6 separate regions of the Homo sapiens genome follow, and all the other regions are reported to be linked to region 1. The links are microRNA targets in miRTarBase. Many come from high-throughput screens and were not tested one by one. Region 1 holds a microRNA gene; each other region holds the end of a gene's coding sequence.
What was found. The annotated mature microRNA hsa-miR-3665 reads AGCAGGUGCGGGGCGGCG and lies in region 1 at 3,103-3,120, opposite strand. An mRNA with a match to its seed (bases 2 to 7 or 8) in the 3' UTR can be bound and repressed. Matches are read on the target gene's strand: a 7mer-m8 pairs with bases 2 to 8, a 7mer-A1 pairs with bases 2 to 7 and ends in A, and an 8mer does both.

Region 1 (5,075 bases):
TGGGATAATAACAGGCTGTTTCTAGATTTCCTTTGAGAATTATTTTTATATACTCAAGAACCTATGGGTGCTTTTGCGATTCTGTTGCTGGATCTATTTAATGTTCATACACAGTATTAGAAATATATGTGAAAAATACAAATTAAAATAAGTTCATGTGCTTTCTTAAAATTCACTAGAGTGATGATAGTTCTGAAGTGTAATGAATAGAGAGAAACATGCATTTCTTTATCCAGTTTTGAATGTGTGATATGTGGATGTTTCACATTACCTTATGGTGTATCAAATGTATGCTTAAAGCATAAACTTTTAAATGAGACATGCACTTTCATTTTTCATATCCTCTTTGTAAACCTCTGAAATCACCTACATATTTTATTTAAAATCAAAACATTACAATTGAGCAACTACAGCATGCAATTTCTTTCAAAACACAAAGCTTACTAATTTGCATCAAAATAAAAAAATCAAGACTGCTTAATTAAAACCTTGACACCATCAACCTCTTTAATTATACGTTAAAGAGACTGGCATCCTGGGGACACCAACTTGAAATCAGTGTGCATTTTGAGTGTCTCTGGTGTGTGTACATGTGCAATTCACAGAAGGGAAAAAAAGAGGGGCATTAAGAGAAAGCAAAAACATGATTTAAATTTTCTTTAGACATTAATAATTTCACACTTTTAAAATAGGTAGGAAAAGGGCAAATTTGTCTTTTCAGAAGAATAATGCAGACTAGAATTGTAAAACAATGTTTCATCTCTTTTCTATGTCTAAATTTCAATGCATGCTTTCTTTTTAAAGAACAAAGATTTTTATGATAATTATTACTTAGAAAACAGGGTTCAAAAGCTTGGCTACTGCTTGTTGGATGTATATAGACCATATTGGGTAAATGAAGGAGGAAAGGGCTGTCTGTTTCTCTCCTTCTTTAGAGTGTATATAAATTGTGCAGTAAAATGACGGCTTTTCTTTACATCTTAATTCTTGTTGTCTTCACTATTATGTGCCTATTCCCAATTTCTTTCTCTAGTCTGGGACCCAGCAGCTCTTTGTTCTCATTGTGTCTGTCGTCTCCCTTTCTTTGTGTTGCAGGGAGATACTGCTACCCGCATCTGCCACTGAGCATGCGGGAAAAATCCTTCAATAGATTCTTTACTTAGGACTTTCAGTAGTATTACTCCATTTCTCCAGGTTTTGGTAATAACCAAAAAAAATCCTAAAGATATACCGAAACTTGGAAAGGTGATGGGTGATACAGGTGGTTAGGTGGTGGGCTAGCAAGCTGGGACACAGGGAAGGTTAAGGGAGTCATCACACGCATTTAGCTAATTTATGGAAGCGCTCACCAAGCATGTTAAATGCAGAACATCCACCCTGCACACAGAAGCTAGAGATGTAGATTAACAACTGAGAAGATACAAGTGTTTCTGAGCAGGAAGACACAAAACCATATCTGAAACCAATAGATACGATGTGTTAGCAGCTCCAGAGAAATGAGGTACATTGTCACAAAGATTGGTATGTAAAGTCCCTAGCAAGGACTTTCACTAGATAGTATATCATCTGAGGATGAGAACCAGTGGTGTAGATTTTTCTCATAATATAATCTCAGGTTTTCCTCTGATTGTGTTAAACACTCAAAATGCTAAGTCAGTCAGTATTCATTGAACACAACTCGATTAAATTCTTCTGCTTAAAAGCCTCTTTTAAAAAAAGCAGATTTGCTCGTTTTCCAAGTGGTAAGAAATAGCAGGTTTGCAGGTGAGATTAAAGTGTATTGGGTAGAATTCTGAGGTTTTCTGTTTTCTGCTTTCCCACCAGCAAGTCTGACTTTAATAACTTACACATTATTTAATAGAAGGAGCACTAAACAATTTTACTCATATTTCTCCCCATAACCATTTTTGCCTATTGTACTCATTGCCCGCATCACGAGCTCTTAGAATGGTTCCTGGCACAGAGTAGGTGCTCAAAGATCTTTTGTTTGGGGAATGCATGAATATACATAGTATGAAAAAAAAAGCAGTTCTTCTTTTATTGTGACAAACAATGATGGTAACAGTTCAAATTTGACTATTTTAGAATAAATAAGTAAACACTTGTCTCCTTAGCAGCTGGCCACTCTACCTCTTAGAGAGAGGGCTTTCTTCTCTTTCTTCTCGGTCTCCTGTCTCCCACCATTTTGCTTCTCTATTACCAATGAGAACATGAGTGGCATGGTCCCAAAGCCTTTCTGTTCCCCCTATCTCCACTTTTCGGTTTTTAGAATAACGATCCCCAGCCTTTAAGTTTTCTATAGGATTCGTTAGCCAGTGGCTATTAAGTGCTGTCACGGAGCCTAACAGAGAGCTGGGAAGGGAGCAAACCAGCGGGCCGGTGGTGCACTACTCGAGGGCCAGCACCTGCAGCTGCTTCTTTGGGAACCCCCTGGTCCCCGCAACCGCCTCAGAGACCCGCGCAGTTCACTGTCCCACCAAGCGGCAGGAGGAGGTGCTTGTGGCGGGAAAGTTCAGGCCAGGTCCAATCAGGCCCCTGGGATTAGGTAGCGAGGGTGGGTGCGGCTCCCCGGCCCCAACCCGGGCTGCCGGCCCCGCCCCCTGGGTGGGCTTCCCCACGGTTCTCCGCCCCCCCCCCCCCACCCGCCCCCTCGGCGCTCTTGCCCCGCCCCGCTCCGGGGCCGCGGCTAAAACCCGGAGCCGCCGCGACGCCCAGGGGACTGGAGGGACGCACTGAGCATGTGCAGATCAGCTCGGTGGTGGCTGCCGCGGCCGGAGGCGAGGGCCCGGTGCTGATGCGAACCGCCGGCTCGGCCTCAGCCCGCGCGTGGTCGGCCCCCCAGGCCGGGGCGACAGGGAAGGAGCCGTAGCCTCCCCGTGGCCCGAGGAGCCGGCGCGGCGGCGCGCACTCCCCGGCGGCCGCGGCGCCCTCGGGGCCCACGATGATGGCGGAGCAGGTGAAATGCGCCTCGGCAGGGGTCAGCTCTGGAGCGGGCTCCGGGCCGGTGGTGAACGCGGAGCTGGAGGTGAAGAAGCTGCAGGAGCTGGTGCGCAAGCTGGAGAAGCAGAACGAGCAGCTGCGGAGTCGAGCGGCCAGCGCGGCCGCCGCCCCGCACCTGCTGCTGCTGCCGCCGCCGCCGCCCGCCGCGCCGCCCCCCGCTGGCCTGCAGCCTTTGGGTCCTCGGAGCCCCCCGGCCGCCACGGCCACCGCCGCGGCCTCAGGGGGCCTGGGGCTCGGGCTGGCGCTGGGCGCGGGGGGCGGTGGCGGCAGCGGTAGTGGCAGCGGCGGTGGCTCCAGCCCCGCGTTCCCGGGCACCTTCTGCCTGCCTAGCCCCGCGCCCTCCCTGCTTTGCAGCCTGGCGCAGCCACCCGAGGCGCCCTTCGTCTACTTCAAGCCGGCAGCAGGCTTCTTCGGCGCGGGCGGTGGCGGGCCGGAGCCGGGGGGCGCGGGGACGCCGCCAGGGGCAGCTGCAGCGCCGCCCTCGCCGCCCCCCACGCTGCTGGACGAGGTGGAATTGCTGGATCTGGAGAGCGTAGCCGCCTGGCGGGACGAGGACGACTACACCTGGTACTGCCTGGCTCCGCTCCTTCCCCGAGACCCTGGCCTCGGGGGCTTCGGGCACCGGGGAGCGGGGGCGGGGGGCGGACGGGGGTCCCCTCGCGGCAGCCGGGGTGACTCCCCGCGGCTCCCGGAGGGGCCGACCCAGCAGGTGTTGAGCCAGGCGGTGACACTTCCCACGATGAGGCTTCTCATGAAGGCAGAAACCTGTTTTCTAATCGCTCCGACTGCGGATGAACCGGCCCCCCCTTCCCCCCATCTGCCATGGGTTCTGCTATTTGCTGATTGTTGGGTCCCAAGCTCCTCGTTAGCATTAAGTGCAAAATCCATGTCATCTTGTCTTTTTGCTCAGTGCTGCTCTTTTCCCCAGTGTTTTCGGAGGGATGACGGGGGATGGTAGGGGTTGGCCTCTGTCTGCGACTGTTACTGTTCTTTCGTTTTAAACGAACGCTGGACAGGATTTGCGTGCTCTTCCTCCTCGGGTGGCATCGGAAGCCGCGCAGTGATGGATCTCTCTTTATAGAGAGGTTCGTTCTTGCTGTTTGAATTTTGCAGTCGTGTGCCCTTTTGCGTTGCATTTTCATTGAAATCTTATTTTCAGAGACTGACTTGCTTTTTAAAATGGGGTGACCTCACTGGCTTTCCCATAAATAGTGCCAATAAAGAGGACTTTTCTTGGAGTGGAATGAACAGGTGGGAGGGACTTTTTTATTTATTTATTTATTTTTTTACCTAGGAACCAACGAACTGTCTTTAATTTTTTAAATTAAACTGTAGAAGAAAAGTGAGATTAGAGAAGCCTTATTTTCTTATTTCTTGGAAACTTTTTAGCTTGGTTATCAGAAAACTTGAGGCTGACAGCATTTATTCAGTTGACATCTGGTTAGCACTGTCTACTTTCCATGAATGAGTAACTTTAGGGGGAGGCTTGCTGTAGTCCTTCTTTACTTTAGGTCCTTTTTATGTAGGACCCTTTCTGTTTTTCCAAGCTGTGTTTTCATTACTTTCTTTGTGTCTCTGTTGCATGATTGCATGGAAGGGATTGGGAAATGGAGATCCTTACTGGTTTCCTATTGGGAACTGCAGTGTTCCTTTTCCCTTACACTCTGTCATGTGAGAGCTCTAACTGTAAAGTACATTAGTTAATTGGTTTCATTCAAGAATCAAAATATATGGAGTTACAGTAAGCCTTTCAGAGGTGTATTCATCATCCACCTTAATACTTTTTGGCAGCTGTGCAGGTAGCTCAAGGTGTAAAAAAATCAAACAACTCATCACTTTTGGGAACTTTAAGCCATTTTTTCAAAGCTGCACCCTTATTTCTGTAAAGTAATCTCAGTTTCAGTCTGAATGTGGTACTAGAAAATGCTCTCATGATGGTCCTTAGATTTCACTAATAACTCTCAGCCCTTATGCCACTTTCAAATTATTTTAGGTTGATTTAGTCCCTACTTAGCCTTTTCTGATGGTATGTATGTAAACAGTGGAAGGAAACTTGTTTACATTTTTGATGGGGA
Region 2 (5,075 bases), not on the chromosome of region 1:
AGAAGGTTCATGGAGCTGTATTCCCAAAGTTTTTATGAAAATATTTGTGGTTTTATAAATGAATAACAGCAGAGTGTAGAATTCTTGGGTCCCTCTTTCTGAGGACATTTTAATCACGATTTATTTCACTGTTGGTGATGTGCCTCTTTGCCAAATGTTCCCCTTCCATTTGTTTCAACCAGGAGAGCATTAGTCCCACATTTTTGCTTGACTCATTTCCACAAATCTGCTGTGAGTAGCCCAGGCTCGTTTCTGCTCATCTGGATTTCTGAAGAGAATTTCAGGTTTTCTTGCAGAGGATTTTAGCTTCCTGTCTGAAGTGAAGACATAGTGAGAGCAAGTTTTGGTGAGCACATACAGGCTGAGCACTCCAATTCTATATCTCCCCACCAGGTTACCAACATCAAGAAGACACTCAAAGCCACCGCATCCTCCTCGGCTCAGGAGATGGAGCAGCAGCTGGCTGAACGGGAGTGTCCCCCTCACGCTGAGCAGAGGCAGCCCACCAAGAAGATGTCCAAAGTGAAAGGTCTGGTCTCCAGCCGCCACTAGGGCCGGCTGGGGCAGCTGGCACTCACCAGGCCTGGGTCAGGTGGGGAGGGGACACCAAGGGCCCATTTCCTCCCCTCTCTACCTGCAGTGAGTTCCAGACCTGCCCGTCCCCTCACCAGCGCCTCCCCACCCTGTTGGTACTGTTCCAGAAAAACTGTTACTCCCCCTCACCCACTCCCTCCTTCCCCAGTTGTTCCCTTCAGACTCAGGGGCTCCACCAATGCCATCCCAAAACAGGGTCAGACACTGCCCAGCTTCCCTCCAGGAGGTTCTTGTCTCTGTGTAAGGGCTTGTCTCCCTCCCAGTTTTTCTTTTGCTCCACGTCATTTTGTCAGGCTGGTTATAAGCCGGAGGCAGCTTTAACCAGCCCCCAGGGATGATTGTGAAGGAGGCCCCTCCCCTTGTGAGGAGGGGGCACTCCTCTCCAGCCCCTGGTACCACAGTCCTCACGATGGTGCAGTGATTTCTAGCCAGGCGTCAAGATGCGCTGCTTTCCCTCTCCTGCCTCATCCCTTGTTGGCAGCTCCAGTTCAGGCCGTGGAGGGACGTGATGCTGGGCTGTGTTTACTAAACCCACGGGTTTTCAGCCTCTTAAGCCCAGCTCCGATCTCCAATTAGTTGAGAGCGCTGGGTTGACTAACCTCTGGTATCTGAGCACAGACAGAGGGTGCTGTGGGTCTGCTGGGTGGCAGAAATGGTTCCTTCCGGCTTGGCGTTCTCTCCTGGCCACTCTTCCTGCTGCCTCTGACTACTCAGCCTTGTTTTCGGTGTGTAGGCCCCAGCTGCCCACTGGAACTGCCGGCTAATGCTTGCTCTCCCAAGATCTTTAACTCCTCCTGGCTGCACCTGGGTAGGGATGGTGGCATCGATGCCCCTCTGTCTGCTGAAGGACCTGTTGCTGCTTCTGTCTTTTCACCCCTCCTTGGCTGATGACCCAGAGCCCTCTGATGATGGCATTCTCCTGGCAAGAGAAAAAGACTTAACTAGACTTCTGAACTTGAACAGTTTCAGGTTATATTTTAATTTTTTTTTTTTTGTACAGGTTCTGATTCTAATACATTTCAACATGCTTTTGTCCCCCCTCGTGTCAATATTTGTTATAGACTAATCGCCGGGGATTTTTCACCTGGTTGGAGGGTGGGGGTGGGGTGGGGTGTGTGTGTGTGTGTGTGTGTGTGTGTGTGTGTGTGTGTGTGTTTGTAGGTCCTGGACTGATTAAAGTTCATTGAGGAAAAAGCACATTTTACAACAAAAAAATAAAAGTGTAGATTTAATGTATGTGACTGGGGTTTGGGGTTGCATACCTGGTGGATCTTGAGGGGCTGGGATTAGGGTGGTTCAGGAAAATGTGATGCTGTTTCCCCATGTTTAGCCATGGTCAAAAAATGGATTTCTCCTTTTTCTAAAATGTCCAGCAACTGCCTACTGTTGATCAAATGTTGAAGTATTCTTGTTTCCCTTTTAAGCCAATCCATGTGCCCACATAACATTATGCCCAAGTGGAGAGTTCACTTTAATTTCCAAAGTATGTTTCATGCAGCCCCCTGTCAGCTGCTCTGTGGAAAAGGGGTTCTGTTATGAAATAAATGTTGCACTCCCTGCATCCCATATCCTCATTGGAAATTCATTACTCAGGTGTCCAAGCATTCCTTGTTGAGGAAGCCTGTACCCACATCGATTTTACCGCCAAATCCTTTTGGGTAATATCTAGGTGGAACAAATCTTAGGGAAATTTTGGGGAAAGTATATTTCTGAAGAAGCCTAAGAGTGCTGGGCGCAGTGACTCATGCCTGTAATCCCAACACTTTGGGAGGCTGAGGTGGGAGGATCATTTGAGCCCGGGAGTTTGAGGCCAGTCCACACAACATAGTGAGATCCCATCTCTGCTACAAATAAAACCCTAAGAGAAGCTGAACACCTTTCAACCTTACAGGTTTTCCCAGCTATTCTTTCTAGACCTCAAACAGTCACTCTCAGCAAGTTTTCTTTCATTCTTGTTTTTCCCACTGGCAAGTAGACTAGGAAACATGGTTTGACTTGTATGAAGTCTGTGACCATTCTTTATTTGATTGCCCCAAGGCCCTAAGGGTCCTCTCCATGATTCACCTTCCTTAAAAATAATGATGGCGACAATAATAACTTGTCTCTAAAGTGCTTTACAAAGTGTGTTTGCATACAATAAGTCATTCAGTCCCTTCCACCCAAACAGCCTTCTGAGGTTGGTAAGGGTATTCAGCCATCTTCGCTTTGCATATGAGAAGACAATCTCAAAGATTTGAAGTGTCCCAGTGGTAACTGGCAGAAGGAGAACTCTTAGATCTCCTGACTTGCACATCCTGTCATCTGCTGTGTTACATTCTCATCTAGAGTCTGCTCTCCACACTTGATCCTTGCTACCCCTCTACCTGCTGCTGTTCCTCTGAGAGTTCATCTTGCCTTTATTTTGAGGGAGGGAGGGGCAAGCCCAGTGTTAGTGTTGATTTTGCCCTCAAGGACCCTGGCGGGGAAGCAGTAGTGTTCCCATTGTAGAGGCCAGAAAAGCTGCCCAGTGACACAGCCAGGATCAGTCATGGAGCCATGATAGGCCAGAGCCTGAGCTCCCAGCCACTGAGGAGGGGTGGCAGAGGATTGTTTGGCCAGGTCTGTGTGGGCTGAAGGCTTGGTGACCAGGGACGACATGATCATCTGCAAGACCAATGCTATCACTGCCCTGAGGATGTTCTTCCCCCGAAAGTTTGCCTCCAATAGCACAGGCACCTGCGTCTCAGATGGTGGTGACATCTGAGTACTTGGACTTCATCAGCTGCCTGTAGGAGGTGAGGTAGCAGGAGGTGAGGGCAATACTCCCTTCAGCTTCAGCAGGTGAAAAGTGTGGTTCTCAATGAAGTTGAGCTAGTGTGTGCCAGGTCTCCTTCTACAGTGGGTACGCGTCATACAGGATCCCATCAAAGCGACCACCTGGCAGGGGAGCGCCACCTCCTTCCACAGGACTTTCAAGGGGATGACCTTGTGTGGCTGCTGCTGGGTCCAGTCCTGGAGCAGCTGGAAGATGCTGTCATTGCACTCCATGATCCAGTGTTCCTGGATGGCGACCTCCTGCACCTTCCATATTCTTGTGGCCATGCCGAAGCCCACCTCTAAGACTCGGCCCCCTTTGGAGGTGGTGAAGGCAGCGAAGGGGGTTGCAGTAGGGGCGCTCTTGCTGCAGATGGAGCCCCAACTTGGAACCCGACGTGCCAGGGCCCAGTCCCTGCAGCCATCTCACTTTTCACATACCTCATTTCTGCTTGCCAAACCCACCCAGCCACTTAATAAGGAAGCAGAGAGTATGGGATAGAGAAATTGTGGGAATAGTGGCCCAGCCAGATGTTCATTGCTCCACTGGGACTCTGATAGGAGGCTTGGCCTTCAAGCTCTGCAGTTTCCTGTCTGGCACCCTGGCAGCTGGGCTCAAGTCTAAAATGTGCAGAAGTGTTTTATAGATAAATAGAACATTCCAAAGAGATGGCCTCATCAGCAGTGAGACATCTTAGGGAAGGAGACACCACAGTATTAAAGAGAATTACCTCAATGGCAGTGCCTGTGAGCTGGCTTGAGCCACCTTCTTTACCTCTGAGCTTTCTGCCTTCTGAAGCCCTTTTTGCTCTTTCTGTTCAGATGAGAGGCATTATGGTTCCTATTTGGGTAACATTAGGGAGGTGGTCAAAGCCCCCAGTATAGCCCATTCCTGTAGTCCTAATCCAAGATGGTCATCACTGATAGTAGGATTCTCCTCTCCCCATTTCAGTCACAGGAAATGGGGTGGTGACCAAACAAGCTCAAGTGATAAACTGCTGGTGATATGTATATATGTTTGTTGTTTTCTCCACCTCTGAGGTGCTGGGTTGCCTGATACCAAAGTGTTCCAGTTTGTGTACTAAAGTTGTTTTTCTGGCAGCCTGAGACTTCGCTTTTTAAAAAATGCAGCAATTGGTTGATTTTTGTTGTTCCTGAAGGACCCATCACACTACCCACGGTATCTGAGTTTCAAGTCTAGCATGGCTTGGGTAATCTGTGATTGTACCTGTTTCTTCCTGGGATTCTGCACATAGCCAGGAGCATCTCATTGCTTCATTCCGTGTTTTCTTGCAGTTATGCCTGGGATATGCAGATGGAAATGCATATTTTATTGTAAATTTCATTTTATATCTAGCTTATATTACCCTTAGGGCATTAAGTGGGTCTTTTAAACTTATGTCTGTTAAGTAGGTTGTCTGTGACTTGACGTCGGGCAGTAAAGGTAGATGCTAAGCAAGTATTTATTATCAAAAGGAAATGTTGAGTCAACATTAAGGGTGAGAACTGCTCTTCGTGGTTAAGGATAAAACCAAGAAGGAAAGAAGTGATGGGAATGCAGAGACAGGAGGCAGCCCAGCTCTTCTTGGGGTTGTTTACGCCCATCCTTGCGTTGGTCTGCGGCGTTTCCCCAGCAGACACCACTGTGGGCTACTCTAATGACTTCTCTTTCCTCCTCGAACAACTTC
Region 3 (5,075 bases), not on the chromosome of region 1:
ACAGTGTGAAGCCAGGATGGGGTAGAAGTGTCCGTGGGCTGTAAGTGTGCAGGGGCTGGACACATGAGGTTGGGCACTGAATGTCCAGCTCAGGGCTGGGGTCAGGGGCCAAAACCTGCTCAGATCAGAATGGGGCCTGAGGACACGTCTCAATTCATTGTCTCCGCCTGGCCCAGGAACTGCATCGGGAAACAATTTGCCATGAACCAGCTGAAGGTGGCCAGGGCCCTGACCCTGCTCCGCTTTGAGCTGCTGCCTGATCCCACCAGGATCCCCATCCCCATGGCACGACTTGTGTTGAAATCCAAAAATGGAATCCACCTGCGTCTCAGGAGGCTCCCTAACCCTTGTGAAGACAAGGACCAGCTTTGAGGGCCTCCACCTGCCATCCTGTCTTCCTGACCCCCACTCCTATCTCCTGCCTGTCTGCCTCTGTCCTGCTTTCTGTCTGCCCACCTTCCCTTCTTCCCACCTGCCTGCTGTCCCCCAGTCTGCCTGCCCTTCTCTCTCTCACCTTTCTCCAAGCTCCCTACCTGCTTGTCTACCTGTCTCCTACCCACCTGTATATCTTGTTGGGAGAAAAGCTGAGTGTTGGGAGAAGCTGAGGCCGAGCTTGCATGTCTGACATAATGTAAAAGAGTCTTGAATCATGTCCAGGATCCAGGGTCTAAAACCCCTTGTGGCCTTTGGAACACCAAGCTCTGTGCTGAAGGGTGGAAGGCTACCCTGACGCACCATAATCTAAGCCCGGGGCATAAAACCCCTCGTGGCTTGGATAGAATCCAGGGCTCGTGGCTCTGGAATGTGTCTGGACTTGCTGGCTCCTCGCTCCTTGCTCTCCCAGGATCAATTGTATCTTGAGTTAAAAGAACCTGCTCTCCATTATCTCAAGTAACAGAGCAGATGCTAAACCGTCACAGCTGTAAATCATGTGCTTAATGCAACATGCCCTTTCGACCCACCCCCCATTCTCACCACCTGTTTCTTTGTTTGATCACCAATAAATAATCTGCACTTCCAGAGCTCGGGGCCTTCACAGCCTCCATACTTAGCTTTGGCGCCCTGGACCCACTTTCTCTCTCAAACTGTCTTTTCTCATTCCTTTGACTCTGCCGGACTTTGTCACCCCCACAACCTGGTGTTGGGTCCGATAACCCCAACATCCCTGAATCTCCACCCACCTCCCAAACTCCTGCCTGCCCTCCAGACTGTCTGCCCATACACCTGTCTCCTTCTTCCTGCCTGCTTGTCTGTTCCTATATTAGTTTCCTATTGCTGCTGTAATAAACTATCACAATCTCAGTGATTTTAAATAACAGCTTTTTATTCTCTTACAGTTCTGGAGGTCAAAGTCAGATATGGGTTTCACTGGATGAAAACAAGTTCTGGACAGGGCCAAACCCCCACCCCTAGAAGATTTCAGGGAGAGCCCTTGGCTTTTCAGCTCCAGAGCTGCCTTTTTTTGCATTCCTGGTACTGTCCCCTCCTTCCTCTTTAAAGCCAATGGCATCTTCAAATCTCTCTCTCTGTGACTGTCTTCACATCTCTTTCCCTCTTATAAGGACCCTTGTGGTTAGTTACATCAAGCTTATTAAGATAATCAAAGATAATGTCACCACCTCAAGATCCGTTACTTACTCAAAAGTCCATTGTGACATATGCAGTCCCACAATCACAGGTTTCATGAATTAGGATGTGGACAACATGGAGACCCCATTGTTCATCCTGGCACAGCCCCTACCTGATTGTCATCTGATGTGTCCATCTAAATCTCTCCTGTATGCTACCTACCTATGTACATGATTGTCAGCCAGACAATCCCTCTATCTTCCCTCCTCTCTAGAATAAGGTTCACAAGCTTGCATGCTTTGTCTAGCTTCACATGGAAGGTGATAGGGTTAGAAGAGGAGACACTAAGGCAGGGAGATAAATCCCTACTGAAGAGGGAAAACGGAGATGAGGTGTGCCCATTGGTGCCAGAACCCTAGCAGGGCCTGATTTGATCCATCCCCCTGCACACAGCCTCATACCATGTCTCCCCTGGTGCCCACACCCTCTCCAGCTCCTGGGGCTCCCATGGTAGCTGAGTTTAGACAAACGATATTTATCTAGGAGATCAGAGGGAGAAGCTCACACCTGTAGGGAAAAGACTCCAGGCCTCCATTCCATTCAAGATTTAGATTCAAGATGAATCACAGCAAGGCTGAGCTAAGAGCCTGTCTTGCTGTGTTTTGTGTTACTGTAACCGAATACCCAAGGCTGGGTAATTGATCTAGAAAAGAGGTTTATTTGTCTCATGATCTGGTGGCTGAAAAGTTTAAGTTTTGGCAGCTCAATCCGATGAAGGCCTCATGCAGCTTCCACTCATGGCAGAAAGCAAAAAGGGAGTGGCATATGCTGAGATTGCATGGTGACAGAGGAAGCAGGAGAGAGACTAAGGAAGCAAGACTCTGTTTTGATCCCGATGTCTTGGAAACCTGTCCATTCCAGATACAGCTAAAACTCAAGCCTGTGAGGTGGAAGGGGTCACTAATCTCTTCATAAAGGATCTGTCTCCACGATCTAAATATCTCCCACTAGGACCCACCTCCCAACACTACTGTGTTGGGGATCAAGGCTTCAGGAGTTTGGTTGGGAACATCCCACATCCCAGCTATAGTGAGGCTGCACTGAGCTGAGCAGGAAAGCCTCAAAGGCCTGGTCTGTCATGAGGACCTTGTAAACTCAGCTCTCCACAGTCCCAGTGAGGTGCAGAAAGAGACCCCAGCCTAGCAACGTCACCAGGTACCTGTCAACTTCCTTCATATATGGAACCTGCAGGCTTCTCAGGAAGCTCATGGAGTGGGCAGCTGTCCAGTCAGGGGTGGGAGGAGCCCAGGTAGGCAAATGGGTCTGGCTGGTGGAAGAGGCTGTTAGACCCCAAGCAGCTCCTTCCCAACAGCACTTCTTGGGAACCAACTTCTTGGTTGTCCTCTGCCTCTCTGGCTGGCCACCCTGATGGGGCAGGGGCATCCTCAACCCTGTCCACACTTGGTGACTGCCTGGGTGCTGGTACTGCTGACCCTGGGCCCTGTTCCAGCACCCGGGCCCCATGTACTACCCCTGGGATAGTGTCACTGATTGTCCCAGCCTCTCTTAATGCAGACCTTGCTTCTCTTCCTAAATCTGAACCCAAATGTTCCTCCCACCAATTGCCCACTCCTAGCCCAGGACCTTGGATGCCATAGAGAGAATTTCCTCTGCCTGAGGTCTGAAAGCTCATTCTGTTACTCTGAAAGGGCTTCTCTTCTAGTTTTTGCCTGCAACTAGGACCTCCCTCCAAGTCCCCTGAGTTCCCCGGTCATTGGATTAATTCAGTCCTGCTCTGAGAATGGGCAGGAAAGGGGAGGGCTGGACAGTCGGTGGTCAGCCAGGAGTGGAGGGAGATGGAAAAACTCGGAGAGGAGAGTGACCTGGGAACATCATGGACAGGATGGCCAGCCAGTCCCCTGGCATCAGGGGATTTACAAGGGCTCATGTTGGCCATGCTCAAAGACCACAGGACAGTGGGCACTCACTCCCATTACTACCCCTAATACCTGGTTGAAAAGAGGAAGAGGAAGCGAATCAAGTAAGTGAAAGTCTCATTGCAATTGGAGAGGTGGAGACCTCAGAGTGATCAATGAGATAGGGAAGATGCACAAGGAGGGGGAATCTGAATATCTCTATGTAAAAGAATGATGTTGAACTTTTACATACACGATATACAAAGTAAAAAAAAAATGGATAGAAGGGTTGAAAGATAGCCCACAGAATGGCAGAATATATTCACAAATCAAATGAGAACATGTAAAGGACTCCAACACAAAACAACAAAATACTACAATCCCATTCAAAAATTCAAAGGACTTCAACAGAAACTACTGCAAAGAAGATATGCAAGTGATCCATAAGCGCACCTGGAAAGATGCTCAACTTCATTAGTCATTGGGGAAATGCAAATCAAAACCACAGTGAGATACCACTTCATATCCTTTAGAAAGGCTATAATTATTTTTTAATGGAAAATATGAAATGTTGGACAGAATATGGAGAAATTGAAACTCTTATGAATTGCTGGTGAATGTAAATTGGCATAGCCTATTTGCAAAACCAATTTGTGGTTCCTCAGAAAAATAAAATCACAATTTCCATGGGACCCAGTAATTCCACTTTTGGATGTATACCCAATGGATTTGAAAGCAAGGATTTGAACAGATCCTTGTAAACCAAAGTTCACAGCAACACTATTCACAGTAGTCATCAGGTTGAAGAGCCCAAGTGTCCATCAACAGATGAATGGGTTCACAAAATGTGGTATACAGATAATGGAGTATTATTCAGTCATAAAAAGAATGAAGTTCTGATACACACTACAGCAGGAATGACAGTGATAACAGTATGCTAAGTAAAATTTGACAGACATAAAAGGAAAAATATCATATGATTCTACTCATAAGTGGCAAATTCATAGATTAGACAAAGTAGTAGAGAATAACAAGGACTTGGAGAAGGCAGAGTTATCATTAAATGATTACAGAGTTTCTTTAGAGTGATGAAAACCTTTTGGAAATAGGTAGTGATGATGGTTGTAAAACGCTGTAGGATCTGCTGCCAAGATGGCCAAATAGGAGCAGCTCCAGTCTGCAGCTCCCAGAAAGACCAACGCAGAAGGTGGGTGATTTCTGCATTTCCAATTGAGGTAACCTGTTCATCAGTTTGGGACTGGTTAGGCAGTCAGTGCAGGCCACAGAGGGTGAGCAGAAGCAGGGTGGGGCACAGCCTCACCGGGGAAATGCAAGGACTGGGGGCCTCCCTTTCCCAACCAAGGGAAGCCATGAGGGACTGCGCTATCCAGCCCAAATACTACATTTTTCCCACGGTTTTGCAATCTGCAGACCAGGAGATTCCCTCATGTGCCTACACCACCAGGCCTCTGGGTTTCAAGCACAAAACTGTGTAGCTGTTCAGGCAGACACTATGCTAGCTGCAGGAGGTTTTTCTTCATACCCTAGTGGTACCTGGAACCCCAATGAGACAGAATTGTTCACTCCCCT
Region 4 (5,075 bases), not on the chromosome of region 1:
TGTGTCTGTACAATTAATAAGCATAAGGCTTCTTCTAGATTTCTAATTAAGAGGAGAAAGTTCCCTTGGCATACCACAGGGCACTTGTGCCCACACAAAGACTAAGCGAGTTATCATTACCCTATTTATAGTTCTTAAACCCTGAGCTCAGAAAAATTGAATCTTAGTTTATTCGAATTCATTACTTTCTCATTATATTTTATGAACAGGCAAAAATGTAGAGGCTTAAGGGTGAAGGGTAATGAATTAAACAGAAATATTAACCAAGTCCAAAAATAGTGTGGAAGCTAAAATTTCTTTCCTCCTTCTTAGCAAAGTACACATTATAAGTGAGGCCCAGGTGAAATTAACTTTAAAAAACATAGGTAGATCATGAAAATTCACTGCTGAGGCTTTACATGTAAGTGGTAAATTTCAGCCTTGAAAGACAGCTACAATACACAGAAATGTGATCATGGAAAACATGGCAAAACGTTAAAATTACCACATGTCCATAGGACTTCACAAGCAAATAATGTTACTGAGAAATGAGTCAATTATAACTATGTTCTATTTTTGAAATGTAAATCATATTGATGATATGAGCAAATATGTATACTTTTACCAGGAAGTAATATTTGGGCTTGGAATACCTCAATTGCAATCTTTGTTTTTATTTCTTGCTCTTTTCAGAATCTCTACTGACACCACGCTTGGCCCCCAGCAAACCCTTCACAGGCTGCATACGCCACTTTGTGATTGATGGACACCCAGTGAGCTTCAGTAAAGCAGCCCTGGTCAGCGGCGCCGTAAGCATCAACTCCTGTCCAGCAGCCTGACATGACAGAGCACAGCTGCCCAAATACAAAGTTCTTTAGAGCACTGAAAGAAACACAAAGCCAGCCAGGAGGAACAGTAACTCTTCCTTCGGGTGGAAGCTTTCATCGAGTTGAACAGGACTTAAACGAATCATCAGGGACCGGATATTTCTTATTTCTCATTTGGATTCTTAACCTTGAATCCAAAGTGTCTGCAATGGACAACAATTGAAGGAGTGGCAAACTTACTTGTATTGAGAGCACACGCAATTCCTACTGGTGAAATTACTGTTTCTGTTTCTAATAAAATAGAAGGGATTCCAAATAAACACTTGCACACATTTTTGAAGTGCGGCTAGATTCTCAGATTCACCTTTCTTCCAGGGAAGATAACTTTCAATCTATATAAAAATCTCTGTCCTAAAACTACCTTTCTTTATTTTGAAGAGACTTACTAACTTACATATAATCTAAATTAGATGATAGATTTGTTTTTAGCCCTTTTGTTTGGTCTATCAGTATAAGAAGAATATTTTAGGTTTATAGCTGAAGTTATCAAGGTTTAATAAAGTAAATTTCTAACAGAATACTAGAAAAATGCAGTATAATTTAATTTTTTCTAAATAAGAAACACAGGAAATCAACTACTTTTTCCCCTTCCTTATCTCCTTAAAAGAAAAATAAAATTGTACATGAGAGGAGGCTTCTGTAGGTTATTATTACCATTATTGTGTGTTCTATGGGAATCATTGAGGATATCACAGCAAAAACAGTAGGACAAAATCATAAAATTCAATTTAAGAGTACACAAGTCCTTTTATTAAAAGTTTGCTCCTAGCCTGGGCAACATAATGAGATCCCATCTCTGCAAAAAAATTTGTACATGGGCATACACCTGTAGTCCCAGCTACTTGGGAGGCTGAGACGGGAGGATCGCTTAAGCTCAGGAGTTCAAGGCTGCAGTGAGCTATGACTGCTGACTGTACCTGCACTCCAGCCTGGGCAACAGAGTGAGATCCTGTCTCAAAAACAAAGTGTGCTCTCCACATACCTGCAACACAACTAGTCTTATTTCTAAAATGTTATAATCTTTTTTCCAAGTAGCTACATTAATATAGTCTAGAAAAAAATGGACTTGAATAGCTGGTAGAATATTAAAATATAGAAATGAAATAAAAGAATTATATCTAAAAACCTCAACTCAGAAGACAGAAAAAGAGAAAATAGGCCCTGATATCAACAGAATTAACAATACATAAAAGGAGTAACTTTTGAGGGGAGAGGATATAAAATATTTTGAGGAATTACCAAGGGGAATAAAACAATGTTACCTTGAAATGATTATATATATATTACATATTGGTATATATGTCCATACCTACCTATATCCCCTGCTACCCTTCTGTCTGAAATATACAAATAATGATAATGTTGAAGATATCGATAAACATAGCTAATGTCTGTTCATAGAGGACTTACTAAGTGCCAGCCACCATGATAAGCTAAAGTTAATTATTTTATTTGTTCATTCCACTAATCCTTTGAGGTAATATTTGCAGCTCAGATAACTCGCCCACTGTCATTCAGCTGGACCAAGAAGCCGGTAGTCAAAACAAGACTGCCTGCCTCCAGGAGCAGCATGATTGTCACCTTGGTTCCCTGCCTCCAAAGACTATCTGCCTTCCAGCTGACCAGAGCCAGAGAGGTACCATAAAGTAGTGAGCTGGCAGGGTCTCACTGGGAAAATCAAGAGGGCACTTGCTTTGACTCATCTAGAAGGGCAGCAGGTTTCTAGGGGCCAATCCCTTCTTTAGGACTGGGTGAGAGAAACCATTTCAGCACAACTGGCAGTGCAACACCATGATGCCCCCAACACCACACACACAAACCTGCAGCAAATGGCACACACAGAGTCTATGTAGAGTATAGAAAGCCAACTGAACATGCCCGTCCAAAATGTGAGCACCATAAATTTTCATCTGTGTTATTCACTGATATGTTGTAAGAGCTGAGACCAGTGCCTGGCAGGTAAGTATATGCTCATAACGAGAGCATTTAAAGGAAGCCCAGTTTCCATAAAGTTATCCCCTCACCTCACCTCCTAAGGCAATCACTTGACTTGTAAATTTCCTGGAAGTCTGAGAAAAGGGAAAAATGGACAGTGACTTCTCCATCTGAGTTCGACTGAGCCCCAGAAATCTCTGGCTTGCCTGAGGGTGCAGGGAGAAGCCTGAGGGAGAGAGGGAGGTGTGGGAGAGAAGCCTGAAGTCCTCAGAGAGACAAAAAGCACTCCCTCAGGTCTCTCTGATAACCTTTTAAGTCCTGAAAAAGTAGGTAAGAAGTTTGGCTACCATGAATAGGACCACTCAGTTTCTAAACATCACAGCACCCAAGGACACCATTCCCAGAGAAGACTGCTAGAGGACAGGATGAGGTGGGCACAAGGAAGATGAGATTAGGGGTGAAAGCCTGATGATCTGCCAAAGCATGGGACAGGAAGGCAGAAACGTAAGTGGAATGTAGCATGACCCTAGCAGCCGGAAGAAACAGTTGAATCTCTCAAGGAACTTCTCAAGTGTAGTGATGGTGGCTGCTCAGGCTTGAGTCCCTCACCAGCCCAGCCAGACCATAGTTTACAGAGAGCTAAACCAGCAACCTCAACAGAACATGTTGTCAAATGATCCTGTCTAAAAACTGTTGATTAATGAGCTGATGTCAGCCAGATGGAAGGTTATGAAAGCATGGTGTCACCAGGTTGCCCTAGGACCTATTTGTAATATTCCCTTACAGAAAGCTTACACCTGGAAATGTAAGAAATGTGGGAAGGCAATTTATTCAGGGTAAAGGCCTTGGAAGACTAAAGAATTAAAGAATTCATACTGCTGAAAACTCTATTTATCCTTTTAATGTTTTTTTTTTTTTACTTTAAATTTTAGGGTACAATGTGCAGGTTAGTTACATATGTATACATGTGCCATGTTGGTGTGCTGAGCCCATCAACTCGTCATTTAACATTAAGTATATCTCCTAATGCTATCCCTCCCCACTCCCCCCTCACCACAACAGGCCCCAATGTGTGATGTTCCCCTTCCTGTGTCCATGTGTTCTCATTGTTCAGTTCCCACCTATGAGTGAGAACATACGGTGTTTGGTTTTTTGTCCTTGCAATAGTTTGCTGAGAATGATGGTTTCCAGCTTCATCCATGTCTCTACAAAAGACATGAACTCATCATTTTTTATGGCTGCATAGTATTCCATGGTATATATGTGCCACATTTTCTTAATCCAGTCTATCATTGTTGGACATTTGGGTTGGTTCCAAGTCTTTGCTATTGTGAATAGTGCCACAATAAACATACGTGTATATGTGTCTTTATAGCAGCATGTTTTATAATCCTTTGGGTATATATCCAGTAATGGGATTGCTGGGTGAAATGGTCAAATGGTATTTATATCTCAAGATTCCTGAGGAATCACCACACCGACTTCCACAATGGTTGAACTAGTTTACAGTCCCACCAACAGTGTAAAAGTGTTCCTATCTCTCCACATCCTCTCCAGCACCTGTTGTTTCCTGACTTTTTAATGATCGCCATTCTAACTGGTGTGAGATGGTATCTCATTGTGGTTTTGATTTGCATTTCTCTGATGGCCAGTGATGATGAGCATTTTTTCATGTGTCTTTTGGCTACATAAATGTCTTCTTTTGAGAAGTGTCTGTTCATATCCTTCGCCCACTTTTTGATGGGGCTGTTTTTTTCTTGTAGATTTGTTTGAGTTCATTGTAGATTCTGGATATTAGCCCTTTGTCAGATGAGCAGATTGCAAACATTCTCTCCCATTCTGTAGGTTGCCTGTTCACTCTGATGGTAGTTTCTTAAATCTGTAGTGATGCCCCTACTATCATTCCTGATTTGATAATTTGTGTCTTTTTATTTCCTGATAATTCTACCTAGAGGTTTATCAATTTTATTGATCTTTTTTAAGAACCAGCTTTTGTTTCTATTGATTTTCTCTATTATTTATCTGCTCTTATATCATTGTTTCTGCTCTTTATTACTTCTTTCTTTCTGCTTATTTTGGATTTAGTTTGCTCATTTTTTTCTGTTTTCTTAAGGTAGAAGCTTAGATCATTGCCTTGAGATGTTTCTTCTTTTCTAATGAAATAATTTATTGCCTTAATTCTCTCTAAGCGCTACCCATGCATTTTGATATGCTGTGTTTTTGTTTTCATCCAGTTCAAAGCACTTTCTAATTTATTCAGTCATTTCTTCTTTT
Region 5 (5,075 bases), not on the chromosome of region 1:
TCTTAGCTTCCAGCCTATTCCTTCACTGGGCAAGCCCCTTCCCCTTACTTGGGGCATTTTCTCCCTTTGAAGCTTTTTCTGAATTTCTGTGACATGTCATAGTCTATACTGCATTATTTAGTACCTGATTACATAATCTCTCATTGGTACCTTTATTGTTTCAATTATGATTTGCTTTTCAGAATCTTCTTGAGGGTAGGGACCATAAACGTAGTGCTGACACTTAACACCTATGGATTGAGTATATCTACTTTTATAGAGAGCTGAAGCCAGTGTTTATCTTGGGAAATTTAGAATTCAGACATTTTTTCCATAGCCATTATACAGTATAAGTAATGGTTAAGTAAAACCAATACTTGAAAAATCAGATGATGAAAAAATCTGGAAGAACTATGAGAATTCATGTACTTTACAAAAATAGCTATTCTGTAGTTGAACAATATTAACAAAATTCTGATTAAAATATTAGATATTATTTGTATGTGACTTACCAATACTGAAAAATGAAATGAAGTTCTACACCCAGATCCAAAGGAGTCTTTAAGGCACATATCTCACACGCACATGTGTTAATGTGGTATTAGACACTTCTCTGCTTTTCGGGGTCCCTATAATCAGTTTTAATTTTCTTTACAGATGTTTCTATACTTTGAAGATCATGGACTAGTGACGTGCTCCGCTGATCATCTCATTATTTTGTGGAAAAATGGAGAGCGAGAATCTGGATTGCGCAGTTTAAGATTATTTCAAAAATTAGAGGAGAATGGTGACTTATACCTTGCTGTCTAGTTTAAGGAATTAAAAATACACATGCATGAACCTTGAACATCAAATATCGGGTACTACTCTGAAAACCATTAATATATTGATCACTTAAATTGGTAATTTTTTTTGTCAGTCCATAAAATTCTACATGTTTAAATTTTTTGTGGACCTACCAACCAGGAACATGTTGCTTCTCAGGTCCTAGTATATCCTCCAAAGAATATACCACAAGTTTTTCCATTTGACTTTGAGCTGCTGTTGAAGTGGTGAGTGCTGTGTTTTGAGCTTATTTTGAACCTAGATCCTTGTGAAAGGTACAAATAGAGGTAATAGTTAAGTTATGGCATTTATTAGAAGTTTTATTATTTGGCTTCCTTTAGAATTATTGTGAAGTTTAAAAATAGCCTTTCTCCTGCAAATTTTCCTAGTCTTTAGTAACTGTTAGTGTTCTATATAGCACAAACTTGAATCTCTCAGCCAAAAAAGGGAACATATATACTGTTTAAGTATGGCAAGTTTTCTTTGGTACCAATTTGTTTAGATAATTTTAAAAATGTTTTTTAGTTCTAGCTACTAAAACCTGTATGAACTCAAATGGATAGGCATCTTGTGAGGGTGTGTTTTTCCCAGTGTGAATTGGCTTGAAGAGCCATGGGCTAAATGGGTACTAGAACAACAACTGCCCCTCATGTACGCCAAGGATGAGCTCTAGATCATTTGAGAGGCACAGTGTTTCCGGAGTCAGGGACTGCAGCTGAGCGCAACTGCCCCATCTGACCACTGACTCAAATACGAACTGCTTGAGACAGACTTCTTTTATGTAGTTCTTTGCAGTGTCCATTGAGACACTATAACCAGCCTTGTAACAATATGTTTTCTCCTTTTGGTGCTAAAAAATGAAAATATTAGAAAGTAGTCTACACATTAAAGATTGAAATTCTTAAACTACTGATGAAGAAAGGGCAACGTGACAGATGTTAGCAGACTGACCCTTCTTACAGAAAACCTACAGATTTATTTGTTCATTATACAAATATACTACAAATATACCCTAAAGGGAATCTCCATAAGTTCTTTTACTAGTTTTAGCTTTGACAGTTGCTTCCACAACTACCTACAAAGACTGGAAGAGTTAAGGTCATCTGAGTAGACCAGTGGCATAATGTTACAAATGAGGAAACTGAGGCCCAGTGCAGTAAGGCCTTGCAATTAAATCTGTAGTGCCCAGTATCACCAAGCAGCTCTAAAAACAGGAACTGAAGACTGAATGAGAAAAGGCTTATATGACTACTTTAAATCCAAACAACATTGAGTCATGAAAAGTTCTATGGAGAAATATTAAAACTTAAGCTACCTCAATTACAGAAGACTTTCTCCCATTATTCACGTGCTTTTTCCTTTAGAAATTCTGCATTGGCCCATACATTTGTAAAGTTGTTTTCTGAAGTTGTATGACACAAGGGAGCCATAGACTTAACTGTTTTACTTCCTAGCCTGTTCTAGGCTAGTATTTTGTGATAGTAATCTATTCAAATGGAGTGGTAGAAATCACATGAATTTTGGAAGCAAATGGTACCGTAAGTACCACAGCAAATTCCTTCTGGTCATTATACAGGCGTACCTCAGAGATACTACAGGTTAGGTTTCAGACCACATCAAAAAAGCAACTATTGCAAATAGAGTGAGTCACATCTAGTTTTTGGTTTCCCAGTGCCTATAAAACTTGTGTTTATACTACAGTCTTAAATTTCTAAAAAATGTACATACCTTAAGAATACTTTATTGCTAAAAAATGCTAACAATCATCTGAGCCTTCAGCGAGTCATAATCTTTTTGCTGGTGGAGGGTCTTGATACTGCTGGCTGTTGACTAAGGTGGTTACTGAAGGTTGGGGTGGCTGTGGCAGTTCCTTAAAATAAGATAGCGATGAAGTTTTCCAAATCAATTGACTTCCTTTCACAAATGAGATCTCTGTAACATGTAATACTATTTAATAGCATTTTACCCACAGTAGAACTTCTTTCAAAATTTAGAGTCTGTCATCTCAAATCCTGATGCTCCTTTATGAACTAAGTTTATAGAATATTCTAAATCCTTTGTTGTCATTTCAACTATGTTTACAGCATCTTCACTGTGGAAATGACTGTCTCCAGAAACCACTTTCTATACACATTCTTAAGCAACTTCTCATCTATTAAAGTTTGATCATGAGATTACAGCAATTCATTCACATCTTCAGGCTCCACTTCTTCCAGACTCCTTTTAATGCTGGAATTTTGACCGCCTCCCATGAATCAGAATGTTCTTAGTGGCATCTAGAATGCTAAATGCTTCCCAGAAGGTTTTCAATTGACTTTGCCCAGACTCTTCAGAGGAATCACTAGTTAGGGCAGCTACAGCCTTATTAAATGTATTTCTTAAATAAATAAGACTTAAAAGTCAAAGTGACTCCTTGACCCATGGACTGCAGCATAGATGTTGTGGTAGCTGGCACGAAGACAACATGAACCTCCTTGTACATCTCCATCAGAACTCTTAGGTGACCAGGTAACATTGTAATGGGCAGTAATATTTGGAAAGAAATTTGAGCAGGTCTCAACCATAGGCTTAAATATTCAATAAACCATGCTATAAACAGATATGCTGTCATCTAGGCTTTGTTATTCCACTTCTAGAGCATAGGCAGAGTAGATTTAACATAATTCTTAAGGGCCTTAAGATTTTTGGACTGGTAAATAAACTCTGACTTCAACTTAAAGGCACCAACTACACTCGCTGGCATTGAACTTCTTCTCCCCAGCTATGAAGTCCTAGATGACATCTCTTCTAATAGAAGACCATTTCATCTTCACAAACTCAGTTGTTTAGTGTAGTCGCCTTCAGTGATCTTAGCTAGATCATCTGGACAACTTCCTGCTGTTGTTGTCCCTTGCACTCTGACGTTAATGGGGATAGTTTCATGAACCAACCTCTGCTTGCTTCCAGCTTTTCTTCTGTAGCATCCTCACCTCTCAGTCTTCGAAGAAAGAATTGAAGAATTAATTAGGCTTTGGCTTAAGGGAATGTTGTGGCTTGTTTAATCTATATAGACCACTCAGACTTTCTCCATCTCAGCAGTAAGGCTGTTTCACTTTCTTGTTTGCATGTTCACTGGAGTTAACACTTTCAAGAACTCTTCCTTTGCATAACTTGGCTAACTGGTGTAAGAGGCATGGCTTTCACCTGCCTGGGCTTTCAACATGCCTTCTTCACTAAGCTTTATTATCTGTAGCTTTTGATTTAAAGTGAGAGACATGTGACTCTTTTACTTGCACATTTACAGGCTACTGTAGGTTATTAATTGGCTTAATTTCGATATTGTTGTGTCTCAGGGAATAGGGAGGTCTAAGAAGAGGGAGAGACTGGAAACCGCTAGTTGGTGGAACAGTTAGAATATACACAAGATTTATCAATTAAGTTCACTGTCTTATACGGGCATGGTTTGCAGTACCCTAAAACAATTACAGTAGTAACAAAGATCACTGATCACAGACCACCATGACAGATACAAGAATAAAAACATTTGAAATACTCTAAGAGTTACCAAAATGTGACACTTACACAAAGTGAGCCCATGCTGGGAAAATGCCCCGATAGACTTGCTCTATGCAGGGTGGCCACAAGCCCTCAATTTGTAGAAAAGGCAGTATCTTTGAAGCACAATGAAGCAGAATGCAATAAAATGAGGTATACTTGTATTCTAATTTTCTGCCATGAAAAACTGTCTAGAGGGCAGTCTCCAACCCTAGGGACTAGATTGCTTTTGTTTTCATGCATGCCCTAAGGTCACAGAGATGGGGGATAACAGTATGATGGGAGATTCTGGTAGGGACTCAAACCTGATGGTGTTCAGTAGTTGCAGGTAGACTGCTGCTAAAAGTTGGACTTTCAATTTAGAATAAAATAATGGGTCAATGTATATTATGTACATTTTCTCCATTTCCTGAGTTTAGCTTTCAACAGTTAAGATACTTGCAACAGCAGAAGTAACACTACATAGTGTTACAGTGTACAAATCCCTTGTCATTTTTATTTTAAAATATATTTATTACCTCAGTCTCTGGCTATATTCACATAGCGCAAGGGCACAAGATCATCCCTTCTGTTTCTCTCTCTAAAGCTGAGTAGGTTCTGAGTGAACTGACAGGCTTGTTTTTTTTTTGCCCAGAATGCTAACCAGTCCTGACATGGAGGGCAAGTAAATTTAAAAATCTTAAATTAGAAATAAAGAATGATCTTAGGAAATTATAGGGTCATTCTGGTCCAGCAGT
Region 6 (5,075 bases), not on the chromosome of region 1:
ACTCCAGGCTGGGCAACACAGCGAGACTGTCTCAAAAAACAAAAACAAAAACAAAAACAAAAACAAAACAAAACAAAACTCAACTCTAAATCCCTATCGGAAACTACTTCTTCTTCATGTGATGCTGGAGAATGCAGTGTCCATGAACATGGTTACTAAAGGCTTGAAAAATAATTACTTTTATCCAGAGTTATTTACTTTAATGCGTTATTGTTCTGTTCCTCGTTCCCCACTCCCCAACATGAGAGTCTTGATATTTTACTCTAAAAGTTTAAAGTATTATACACATGCGTCTTTTAATACAAAATGCTGCAAGTTCTTTTTGGAAGCAGGCAGGGGTTCATAAATAACAAATACAAGAAGTATTTCAAGAATGAACTAGGTGAGTTTGTAGATTTTTGCTGGATTGTCTGCAGTTTTATGATTTCAGCCTAGGAGACTTCCTGTTGGCTGTTTTCAGAAAACCAGGGACATAGCTTGAGGGCTGAGTTAATTCCGGTAGTTCATCTTCCAGTTAGATCTATTTTTCTGTCCCTCCATCAACAATAACTGCCCATCAGAGTAAGTAATGTTCTAAGCAAGGGTTCTTACATTGCTCTGTAAGTTTTGCTCTAGTGATCACTGCATATGAAGTAATCACATGATCACATTTAATATTCTGATGGTTTTATTAACAAGTATATAATATATATTGCATACTGTATATAGTATATGAGGACTGTACAGTACAAATTTATGTTCACAGTTTGACATGACAAAATGTCATTACTGAATTCCCATTGGACTACAGAGTAGAAACAGAGAAGGTACATTAAACATTCACATCTTTAGTAAGAAAGATTACCAAAATGTTTCAGTATCTGCAAGTATACTAATGCATGCTAAAAACCTTTACCCATTCAGTCTTATTAGCTTATAAAATATATTACACTTTATTAAAAATTTCTGCATAGTTTATACAAGTATTAAAGTACTGTAAATGTAATAATCCTGCTATATTTGCAGGTATGGTTTAAGAGATGCTAAGCAGAAAGATTATTTTGACCCTCTAACACTAAGTACATAACAGAAAAAAAAGTGCTAGTATTTGTAAAACAATATTGTTGTAGCCCTCGTTTAATGCATGTAAAGATGGCTTTGTAAATGTATTGTTTAGGTGAATTTGCGATCATTTAGCAATTGTTAACCTTGACCAAGAAGAGAATAAAGACAGCTCGGAGCAACTTCATGTATGACAGCAATTCCTTCAAGACAACTGTATATTTTCAAACCAAATTATTTTAAAACCTTAGATCTTTCAGATTGTCTTTACAACAATCTAATCAGGAATGATGCGCATATATACAGTATCAGCAAAATAGTCTTTCAAATTCCACATTAGTGCAATACTGATAGTGCAGATGGGTGTTTAATAAAATATACATATACATATATAGTTCCCCTGTAATTCTGTTCCAAGGCTCTTGAAACTTCTGTGTATTTAGCATCTCCCTAGTTGAATATAGCTATGCTGCTAACACATTCTCCAAACCAAGCAATTTAGAATGTTAATGCCCATTTATGATGTAGATTCACATAACTCTAAAATACGATGGATTCTGATTCTTCTGACTTCTCTAGGATGACACTTGGGTAACAACTGAAGAAACTCTATAACAAACAGAATTTACGTAATAGTAACTTCATGTTTACAAATCATTCTCATCAATTTAAAATATTGCGATTGAAATCACCATTGATAGTAACATGACACACATCATTAAAACATGTTCAAGGGCATCTAATCTTGTATTTGAGGTCTTCCACAATAACAGCTAAAAATGACTAAGAGGCTAAATTTCTCAACTATCATAGTAAAATACAAATATATATATAAGAAAAGTTTGGTAAGGGCCAATTGGTAATGAAAGCGTATTGACCAGCATGGGAATAGAGAATGGCCGCTCTGGGTTGCTTTTGTTCAGAGTTAAAACGGATCTTTGTTAAATGAACTGTTAACACAATCTAAGCAAGCTGAACAGTAATGTTAAGAGTCTTTGCAAGGTCTTGCTTCAAATCTTTTGAACAAAATTTAAATATGCCACAGCAAATGCATCAATTCCATGAGATGCCCATGAGGCTATTCACTGAACTCAGGCTCAAAGCTGATCCCAGATCAATCTGATCCTTTCTCGCCCTTTCCCCCACTTCTCTATGGATTGGAACACACATAAACTGGTTACCTCGGTCAAAACAAAAAGATTTTCCTTGCGTTCCATCTTGATTCTTGTGTGTTGTGAAAGAACCATCTCAAGAAATGAACACTTTGCCATGAATATGACTAAGCATTTACAATACAGACAATATCTACTTTTCAAAGAGCCATTTTATCACTCAATTCATGTCATAGTTGCAAAAAAGAAAAACTTCAGCTGAAAAAAAAATTATCTTTGCCTTTAGCTGAAAAACAAAACAAAACAAAAAAACAGCCCAATTAGGATGTTTTAGTATCCTAAAGAAGTTTTGCAGTGCTTTAAAAAAAGGAAAATCAAACCCAAGTGCCAAGATAACACATTTCTTTGCATTTCTTAACTACATTTCTTTACAGCTGGTTCACAGGGCGGATGAGTGGGACCTCTTAGCCTCTTAGGTGCACAGTCCCTACAACTTTTATTAACACAGTGCCATCAAAGCAAGCTCCCCACACAATTCACAGGCCTCCGGAATCACTCATTCACAGATGTTTTAAAAATGATCAAACAATGTATTCCTCCCAGTTAAAGTTGTGTTGGATCCTGAGTTGCGGCTGGGATGAATCTTCAGGATTTCATTCTTCTCTCTTCTCCTCCATTCTTGATGAAGGGGAATTTGGTTATATGCACCCACATTTAACTACTGTTGCTCACTTTCTTCAAATTCAGGACCAATGACATTTCTATGTATGAATTATTTTTATTGGCATTTAGACTATGGTGCTCAAAAGCCTGCTTTTGAATAACTTCCCCCAATAATGGTGCTATTTATCTTCAACATAAACACGAGCCATTATTTTCAGTTTGTTCTGACACTGAAATAGTGATAGGAAATTGCCAACTCTAACAGTAAACTTTTGGGAATTTTTGAGCTACATATATGAATCCCTGATCTGTGGTTTTCTATATTTTCTCATAAATTCCCAAAATAAAGGTATGTGTGCTTCACAACTAGTTATATTTACAAATAGTGTCACTCAGGTCTTAATTGAATCAATCCATTAAAGCATTAGCAGATGCTTTATGGTATGTGTCATGAATACAAATGACAGCCAATTTGGCACCTTAACAGCTCACACAGGAAGAGTTTCTGTATAAAAGCTATGTGATTAATTTGATAAGGGAATACAAGTACCACTCAACATTTCCCTGTTTACAAAAAAAGCTATAAGCAGATTGGGTAAAAGAAGAACCATCCATACTCTTACCCGAAAGATTTCTTACCATTACTGGGCAAATATTCCATGGAGTCCCTACTATCAATGTTTGATGATCTCATATTAAGGACATTGTAGGAATGGAGATAGTTGCATGGATAACCCCATCGGTATATGGCTTTGCAGCATGGTTCTACAAAGCTGAGTATGCACAGAGACTGAAGCTCTGGGAATGCTGCACACAGCTAACAAAATGTTGAAACCTCACTGACAACCCCTAGCCCAGGAGGAATTGCCTCTTCTGCTCCCCCTGCTAAATGGCCCTCTCCTCCGACTCCATGCTATGAAAACACAGCACCCTTCCCTTGAACTGCTACACATCACCCACCTAGATCGAAAGTTTGGGCTCATCTCCCATTGGTGGCAAAGACCTCCATATGAGCTGCAGGCACAAAGGAGGGCAAAGAACTCGATTCAGATGAAGTCTAAGATCCAGGTTGACAAGATTTGTGAAGAATGACGGAAGAGGTGACTGCACTAGCTTGAAATCTGGCTGTACTTCTAGCTAACCGGTGCAAGGGGCCACACTTGTTTTCACTGTCAAGCATAAAATATTATCACAGGGCAGAGGTAAGAATGTCTCTGGCAAGGACTAGCAGTCTGGATACTGTATTTCTAATACATTTACTCTGACATTCTTTTGAGGAATACATGGAGAACTGACAATTGGTTATGTTAGTTTACATGTTCCCTTGTTCTTATTACATTAAACGTATCTGTAAGAAGGGTTTGCTTAGCATCCCCAGAAAAAAAAAAAAAAGTGTTCACATTCTTTAGGTCTGACCCGTGGTAAGGAGAGGGAGGATTAGAGAACATCTACTACTGACCATATGGAAGTTTTGGATGATATAAATTCAGAGATTCAGACCAGCTGAATCAAATTAAAATGTACATGTAAAAAATGTGTTAGATAATGGGAGGCAGGACAGAGAGAGAGCCAGGTGAGTGGGGAGTCACGCTGAGGCAGGACACAGAGGCAATCAGACTAGCATGTGGCGTTTCCTATGGAGGGCAAGATGGTCAGAACGGGAGAAGCTGCGGTCACAGTCCGGGCACTGGAAAGGTTTGATTCCAGTATGTTTTCGGAAATGTCTTGTTAGTTCATCAGACCGAGCAAACTTCCATGTGCACCCTTCCCATGTACATTTGTAGGGTTTTTCTCCTGCAAAAGGAAAAAGAAAAGAGCTATTTTTTTTTTCTGTAAAGGTAGTAAAGATCTTTGAGTTAATGCTTGACAAATATTATTTCCAAGATATGTTCATACATTTGTTCTTCAATAACACAGTGCATTATAAACTACTGCAAGACAAGCAAGAAGAAAATGAACTAATACCGTAATGTTTCATTGGCTCTCTGCCAAAAAAACGGGAGGAGAATTTTAAGAGTTCTTAAAACACAGAGTCACTGAAATCCATTCTGAGGGACTACCAAATAGTGAATGAACACATGGTGATCTGTATTTGCACATCTCCCAAATCTTAAACCTGCTTGGGAGCTTAATTATATGCAGTGCTATTCATTTAATGAGATAATGAGAACTCCAAATTGAAAGTTTGTGGGATTTTCTTAAACTTTTCAATAGTTTTCCAAAAATATGAAGTCTCTAACAACTGAAGTATCTGTTAGG

Region 2: miRTarBase lists COPS7B as a target of hsa-miR-3665. Seed matches in the 3' UTR shown: 7mer-A1 at 633-639.
Region 3: miRTarBase lists CYP4A22 as a target of hsa-miR-3665. Seed matches in the 3' UTR shown: 7mer-m8 at 380-386 and 7mer-m8 at 470-476.
Region 4: the mRNA of LAMA4 is a reported target of hsa-miR-3665. Seed matches in the 3' UTR shown: 7mer-A1 at 1,782-1,788 and 7mer-A1 at 1,847-1,853.
Region 5: the mRNA of WDR41 is a reported target of hsa-miR-3665. The part of its 3' UTR that is shown has no 7-base or 8-base seed match.
Region 6: the mRNA of KLF3 is a reported target of hsa-miR-3665. Seed matches in the 3' UTR shown: 7mer-A1 at 1,001-1,007.

Annotation. Positions count from the first base shown.
Region 1 is chr13:77,694,973-77,700,047 of GRCh38, forward strand. MIR3665 (microRNA 3665) reads right to left here and starts at 3,144; the gene lies at 3,040-3,144. SLAIN1 (SLAIN motif family member 1) reads left to right here and starts at 2,715. Exons shown (of 7, transcript NM_001242868.2): 1 at 2,715-3,567. The coding sequence starts at 2,942. RefSeq lists silencers at 2,473-3,032, 3,233-3,472, 3,633-3,782.
Region 2 is chr2:231,807,094-231,812,168 of GRCh38, forward strand. COPS7B (COP9 signalosome subunit 7B) reads left to right here. Exons shown (of 7, transcript NM_022730.4): 7 at 394-2,160. The coding sequence ends at 552. It also overlaps the pseudogene GAMTP1. Among named protein-coding and RNA genes, the nearest start is that of COPS7B, 23 kb to the left of the region's middle.
Region 3 is chr1:47,148,426-47,153,500 of GRCh38, forward strand. It overlaps CYP4A22 (cytochrome P450 family 4 subfamily A member 22), which reads left to right. Exons shown (of 12, transcript NM_001010969.4): 12 at 177-1,302. The coding sequence ends at 372. All of the region lies in intron 5 of CYP4A22-AS1 (CYP4A22 antisense RNA 1), which reads right to left. Among named protein-coding and RNA genes, the nearest start is that of CYP4A22, 14 kb to the left of the region's middle.
Region 4 is chr6:112,105,180-112,110,254 of GRCh38, reverse strand. LAMA4 (laminin subunit alpha 4) reads left to right here. Exons shown (of 39, transcript NM_001105206.3): 39 at 673-2,324. The coding sequence ends at 818. Among named protein-coding and RNA genes, the nearest start is that of FAM229B, 20 kb to the right of the region's middle.
Region 5 is chr5:77,428,849-77,433,923 of GRCh38, reverse strand. WDR41 (WD repeat domain 41) reads left to right here. Exons shown (of 13, transcript NM_018268.4): 13 at 637-2,991. The coding sequence ends at 789. Among named protein-coding and RNA genes, the nearest start is that of WDR41, 61 kb to the left of the region's middle.
Region 6 is chr4:38,696,617-38,701,691 of GRCh38, reverse strand. KLF3 (KLF transcription factor 3) reads right to left here. Exons shown (of 6, transcript NM_016531.6): 6 at 175-4,610. The coding sequence ends at 4,429. Among named protein-coding and RNA genes, the nearest start is that of KLF3-AS1, 34 kb to the right of the region's middle.